Homo sapiens: one gene and its partner. The protein of the gene in region 1 purifies or fractionates together with the protein of each later gene. This does not show direct contact. Each region holds a gene or a part of one and is shown in the gene's direction. Other genes may lie near its edges.

Region 1 (3,269 bases):
CATAGTCCATGCGATTTTGTCTTAGAAAGAATTAAAATACTTTAATGTGTTTAGGACTTTTTAACAATGTACACTATTATATTTTACCCTGAATTGGGTAATACTCATTTCTTATCCAGAATTGGGTAGTATTTTTATATCAGAAGCTGAATTAGGCATATATTAACTCCATTTGACAGGAAACCAAGCCCCAAAGAGGTTAAATGCTCCATCCTGTTGGGATTCAGGCTGGGTATAGAACCTAAAACTGCAGAAGACATTTGGCAACATAATAAGCCTATTAGGATTAAGTGACATGAGTTATTGGAGGAAAAACATAGAAAATGATTGCATTCCTTTTGAGATAAAGCATATATTATGTAAGTTTAGTCACTTATAGCTATTTGTAGTGTATTGAATTTTTTTTTTTTTTTTTTTTTGAGACAGAGTCTCGCTCTGTCGGCCAGGCTGGAGTGCAGTGGCATGATCTCGGCTCACTGCAACCTCTGCCTCCTGGGCTCAAGCAATTCTCCTGCCTCAGCCTCCCGAGTAGCTGGGATTACAAGGGTGTGCCACCGCACCCAGCTAATTTTGTATTTTCAGTAGTGACACAGTTTCACCATGTTGGTCAGGCTGGTCTTGAACTCCTGACCTCAGGTAATCCACCCACCTCAGCCTCCCAAAGTGCTGGGATTACAGGCATGAGCCACCATGCCTGGCCTATTGAATATTTTTAAAAATGTATAATAATTGTTATCCATCTCTCCATTACTCTCAGATTCCCTGATTTTCCTATGACCAAATGTGTACATGTGTTGATTTTTTGTGTTTATTACATAGCCTGCTAAAGTCTGTGAAATAACTTTCTTTCGTCTCTGTTTTAGTTTGTGCCATTCAGGGATTATATTGACAGAAGTGGAAACCACATACTGAGCATGGCTAGATTGGCTAAAGATGTCCTAGCTGAGATCCCTGAGCAGTTTCTCTCCTATATGAGAGCCCGAGGAATCAAGCCATCACCTGCGCCTCCCCCATACACCCCACCTACACATGTGTTACAGACTCAAATATGACTGTGCTCTGAAATGCTAATGTCAACTACAAATCAAAAGTGCTGAGTTAATGCTTTGTGCCTGGTGCTCTGTAATGAACCAGGCAATGAGATAGTTTTCTCAGTTTGGTTTCAGCAGTTAATGTGCTTTCTTGGATCCAAATTTAAATATCTTCCTAAACCAAAACTGTAAATATGGTTGTTGCATGAGCAACAGAAAAAATTGTTTAAATGCTTGAAGCAAAGTATGGATGTCTTCTCTAAATCTTTCTTTCTTTTTTTTTTTAACAGAAACAGCTAATTTCCAATGTATTGTTGGGAAAAAGCACAAACTGTGTTTTTAACTCAAATATTGTCTTCGACTGCTATGTGTATAGGAAAGCAGTCTCTGTATCAATGTTTACATGTTACTACTTTTTAAATTTCAATACTTTTATAACTGTTCTTAAAAATAAGAGTTTTAAATACTGAATCCTTTGTCTTCTAAATTGCAATAGCTATAATCACAAGAGCAATATCTCTTTGAATGACTGTCTGGACAAACACAATTGCAAATAAGGGAAGGGAAAAATGCTTTTCTATTTTTCAGTAACTGGATTGTCTTAAGAAACTACATCTGCTTAATAAACAATTTCTCAGCAATGTTTGCTGGGTATGGGAGTTTAAGCCCGGCAGATGTGTCTCCTGGTTGAACATGCATTTTTCATGGAGTTTGGGTTCTAAATTTAGACTGCAGTTGGTTTGTATTTTGTAACACTAAGTAGAAATTATAAAAAGTCAAACATTGTGATCTATAAATGCACAGAAAATACTTTGTAAAAAGTAGCATCCTTATATAATAATGCTATTTAGAAAGACTGAAACCAAGACTATTTAACTGTGAACTATGTAGCAGATGTTTTAAACTTTTTATTCCATTATATCTTGTCTAGATATTTTAATTCAAAGGGATACTGGCTCTCTTGATCGGAATTTCTTGTTATCACCATTCCACGTTGCCACACAAGGTGCACAGGCTGGAAGTCTTTTGTGAAATTCCCAGTTAAATATATACAACTATGTGACTTAGTGCACAACACATTTGTGAAATAACCTACTCCTATATACTGACCTGCCTGTCCACGAATAATTGTAAAGGGTTTTTGCATGTACAGTTTTTACAAGAATTACAGTTTTGTGAAGTTGTGTCTAAATTAAAGCATTTCTTTAGAACAAATGGCCTTAAATTCTCACGGAATTCCTGGAAATGATTGTGAATTGCCTTCAAATAATAGAAAAGTGTATTTATTTGTGTGTGTGTGTGTGTCAAAAATGTAACTGCTTTATAATATTTTTTCCTTACCTATATATTCTATTTAATACTTGGTTTATTTCTACTGTACATTGTTTTCTTTGTCCCAAGTTGACCTAGGGTGACTTTTATAAGCATGAAACTATTTTACTGGAAAGAAAAATATATACATCCACATATCTAACAGTATCAATGTTATATAACTATGTAATAATTGTTGATTTTTAATTATGTATTAAAATCTTTAAATCATAACTATTTGCTTTGTACGTTTCATGTATGAATGACAATAGTTTGATGATTTCCTTTACTGATCTTAAATATTTATGCCACTACAGTGTATTACCTACAGATTTTTAAATTTAGCTTTATTTATCAACCCAAAAAACAAATAAATAAGATCAATATTCTTTTCTTCTTGTCAAACATCAGTTATTTTTTTGAACTGTCCAGAGAAAACAAAAGTTGTACAATTCCTTGTATAAATAATAGATTGCTCAAACCTAGTGGGAGTAAATGGCCAGGAATGAAGCAATTTCTCTTTACAAATGTTATCATTTATATGGCTGAGAATGATAATCAGAAACTTATGTGAAGTTAATGCTACATGTAAGATTAGAAAATACGTAAATCTTGTGTATTCATTGCAAAAATGTAGTAAACCAAGATTGGAGGGATTAAGTGATGTATCCAAGACTATATAACTAGAGAAGAGCTCATTACCATCTTGGAAATATTTGTTATAACTTACATTTTGTTAGTTGCTATTAGGTGCTATGCAATAGGAAATCCCAGAGACATGCTTCATAAAGGAAAACACATAGTAATAGTTGTACATACAAACTGGTTATCAGGGATATTTACACTTACGGTAATGAGCAACAAGAAAGGTATATATTGAGAAGGGGTGATAGATTCAAGTCATTAAACCTGCTGCAGAAGTCAGTC
Region 2 (3,824 bases), on another chromosome or scaffold:
AGATTGTAACCTTTCTAAAGAGTAAGTTGGGCAGAATGCTGAAGGCATGCGTACTGGGCCAGGGATACCTGGGGAACCAAGATGATAGGAACAGTGGCTGAGAACGGGTCACATGTCACAGGAACTGAAGGGCCTCATGAAGCAGTTTTTGGAGCCAGTGAGCCAGGCCAGTGAGACCAGGCTCAGGTGTGGTAGTCAAGGGCTGGTGGTGAGTGATTGGTTTCCACTGCAAAGTTTACTTAGCATTGCCGGCTCTTTGGTTAGGGCTGGGATGGAAAGGTGTCCTCCAACTCCCCACTTGTGTGGGTTCCATCTTACCATTCCTGATATGGGCCCTGGGCCTTGCCTTCCTGTAGAGGTGCCTGAGTTTCAGTTCCTGATTGGAGATGAGGCAGCAACACACCTGAAGCAGACCATGAGCCATGACTCCCAGGCTGTGGCCTCCTCTCTGCAGAGCTGTTTCTCCCACCTGATGAAGAGTGAGAAGAAGGTGGTGGTGGAACAGCTCAACCTGTTGGTGAAGCGGATCTCCCAGCAAGGTGGACACAGTTATATTCCTGGTTGGGTGCAATGCTCTGGCCTGGGCTTCCCAGCAGACACCAGACTCTGGGGACAGTTCTCAACCCCCTTGCCCAAGTGGAACACTAAAAGGGGCCCCACTTAGATGACCTGTTGGCAACTTAGCATTGCTTGCCTAGTCTTTGTGGAGCAGGGCCCTTCTTAGTTGAGTGCTGCTTCCCAACTGGTCATCTTCTCCAGATGGTTGGAGGCAGACTGGCATAGAGGACTCTTAGGATGCCTTCCACCTAGGCATTCTGAGATTTTCCCTAGCCCTGCAGCTGCCCTCCATGGATGGACTTGTATCTCGGGGCTAAAGAGGCAGGAAGGGGACACGAGCATCCTCCCTCTCCTGGAAAGGACTGATGCCTCCAGCACTCAGTCATTTGATCTTTCCTTTACCTTCTGTGTGCCCAACCTTGTGCTAAGAAGAGTTCAGGAAATGACTGTGATGGGTGTGGTCACTGTCACCCTAAAGGTGGGGAGTCAACACAAGCAGTAAGAAACCCAAAACAGAACAGACTCCCAGCAATGAGCTTATGTGGTGCAGGCGATGAGGTCTCAGCTTCTTAGCCTGGCAGCCACAACCCCTTCTCTAGGTGGCCCAGAGCTCTCTTTTTATTTTACCTCTACAGGTTTCCCATTACCTTTGAGCCTTAGGGCATTATTTATTTGACCCAAGCATATTTTTTTCTGTTCAGTGTGTGTGTGTGTGTGTGTGTGTGTGTGTGTGTGTGTGTGTGTGTGTGTGTGTGTGTGTGTGTGTGTGGTCTCTTTCTGTTGCCCCAGGCTGGAGTGCAGTGGTGCGATCTTGGCTCACTGCAGCCTCTGCCTCCCGGGTTCAAGCAATTCTCCTGCTTCAGCCTCCTGAGTAGCTGGGATTACAGGCATGTGCCACCACATCTGGTTAAGTTTTTATATTTTAGTAGAGACGGAGTTTCACCATGTTGCCTAGGCGGGTCTCGAACTCCTGAGCTCAGGCAATTCACCTGCCTCAGCCTCCCAAAGTGCTAGGATTACAGGTGTGAGCCACCACGCCAGGCCCCTTGCCTCACTTTAAAGAAGCCTGGCTGGGCACGGTGGCTCACACCTGTAATCCTAACACTTTGGGAGGTTGAGGCGGCCGTATCACTTGAGGTCAGGAATTCAAGACCAGCCTGGCCAACATGGTGGAACCCCATCTCTACTAAAGATACAAAAATTAGCCAGGCGAGGCAGAGGTTGTGGTGAGCCTAGATCATGCCACTGCACTTCAGCCGGGGCAATAGAGTGAGACTCTGTCTCAAAAAAAAAAAAAAAATGCTGGGCATGGTGGTGTGTGCCTGTAATCCCAGCTACTCAGGAGGCTGAGGCGCAAGAATCACTTGAACCCAGGAGGTGGAGGTTGCAGTGAGTCTAGATTGCACCACTGCACTTCAGCCTGGGAGACAGAGCAAGACTCCGATTCGGAAAAAAAAAAAAGAAAAAGAAAAAGAAAAAAAATTTAAAAATTAAAGAAGTCCACCCTTGCCACTCTACCCAGGCTGAGCTCATTTTCCCTTGTCGTTTCCAGGACACATTTTGGCCCTCAGCGCATTCTGCCTCATGCTCTCTGGAGCAGACCGAGAGAGATTCTCTGAGACATAGAACTTTCTTTTTTTTTTTTGAGACGGAGTCTCGCTGTGTCACCCAGGCTGGAGTGCAGTGGTGCAATCTCGATCACTGCAACCTCCGCCTCCCGGGTTCAAGCGATTCTCCTGTCTCAGCCTCCCGAGTAGCTGGGATTACAGGCACGTGCCACCACACCTGGCTTTTTTTTTTTTTTTTTTTGTATTTTTAGTAGAGATGGGGTTTCACCATGTTGGTCAAACTGGTCTCGAACTCCTGACCTCGTGATCCGCCTGCCTTGGCCTCCCAAAGTCCTGAGATGACAGGTGTGAGCCACCGCGCCCAGCTGAGACACAGAACTTTCAGTGCTAAAAACTAGAAAGTCGCCGGGTGCGGTGGCTCACACCTGTATTCCCAGCACTTTGGGAGGCCTAGGTGGGAGGATCCCTTGAGTTCAGGAGTTCGAGACCAGCCTGGGCAATATAGCGACCCCCTCTCTCTGCAAATAATAAAAAACTTAGCCGGGCATGGTGGCATGCACGTGTGGTTCTCGCTACTCAGGAGGCTGAGGTAGGAGGATTGCTTGGTCCTGGACAGTTGAGGCTGCAGTGAGGTATGATCGTGCCACTGCACTCCAGCCTGGGTGACAGCGAGACCCCGTCTCAAAAAAAAAAAAGGGAAAGCTCGGGCATGTTGGTTACCCTTCATGAAACTCTTTTGCGTTATCTCCCTAGATTTTGAGCTCCAAGGGCAGTGGTTCTCATACAGGGGACATTTGGCTGTTGTCTGGAGCCATTTTTTGATTGTCAAAACCCAGATAGGGGTTGCTAGTGGCATCTTGTGGGTGGAGGCCAGGGAAGCTGCTACACATCCATCAGTACACAGGACAGCCCCCACAATAAAGAATTACCTAGCCCAAATGTCAGTAGCGCCAAGGCTGAGAAATCCCATCCTGAAAGGACCATACTCTAGCTCTTTTAGTGGCTAGTATAGTCCTGGGCATATGAATAGTCAAGATATGATGAAAGATGGTATTTGTATGGACTGGAGTATCAAGCAAGGCTCGACCCCCAAAGGGCTGGAGGCGTGGCCAGAAGGACAGGGCCACTTTGGCTTCTGGATTCCTGTGGCAGGGACCTTTTCCTAGGACTCCCTGGCCAATGTGGGGCTATGAACAGCACTGAGTATCCCCCTAAGTGACCTTGGGGTGCTCTGTGACCCTCAGCGGCTGCCGGAAACAACATGGAGGACATCTTTGGGGAGCTTTTGCTACAGCTGCACCAGCAGTACCCAGGTGATATCGGCTGCTTTGCCATCTACTTCCTGAACCTGCTTACCCTGAAGCCTGGGGAGGCCATGTTTCTGGAGGCCAACGTACCCCATGCCTACCTGAAAGGAGGTGAGCCACATTTCAGCAGTGAGCCCCACTGCCATCCCTGCTGGGCCCTGTTTCCCTATCTGGACAAAGGAAGGAGAAGGGTGGTCAAGGAGACCCCCAAGGACCTTGCAGCTCTGACCTCTGAGGGTTCCTGGGCTCAGCAAGCAACAGCTGGTAGGGATGATGAATGCATTTAGCATTGAACACGCCTTGAATCCTGACACCAACCCTGTGATGCCATGCTACTCTGATTTTAAGTCCTGCCAGTCAGTGTGGGAACCACAATTTGAACGCAGGCTAT

What was found.
Region 2: the proteins of CPNE8 (region 1) and MPI purify together in Homo sapiens (affinity purification with mass spectrometry; one large-scale study listed by BioGRID and IntAct). This does not show direct contact.

Annotation. Positions count from the first base shown.
Region 1 is NC_000012.12:38,651,665-38,654,933, reverse strand, and holds the end of CPNE8 (copine-8), read left to right. Parts: intron 1-863; coding exon 864-1,052; 3' UTR 1,053-2,731; downstream 2,732-3,269. UniProt on the Homo sapiens protein: Probable calcium-dependent phospholipid-binding protein that may play a role in calcium-mediated intracellular processes.
Region 2 is NC_000015.10:74,892,782-74,896,605, forward strand, and holds part of MPI (mannose-6-phosphate isomerase), read left to right. Parts: coding exon 1-21; intron 22-356; coding exon 357-539; intron 540-3,370; coding exon 3,371-3,544; intron 3,545-3,824. UniProt on the Homo sapiens protein: Isomerase that catalyzes the interconversion of fructose-6-P and mannose-6-P and has a critical role in the supply of D-mannose derivatives required for many eukaryotic glycosylation reactions.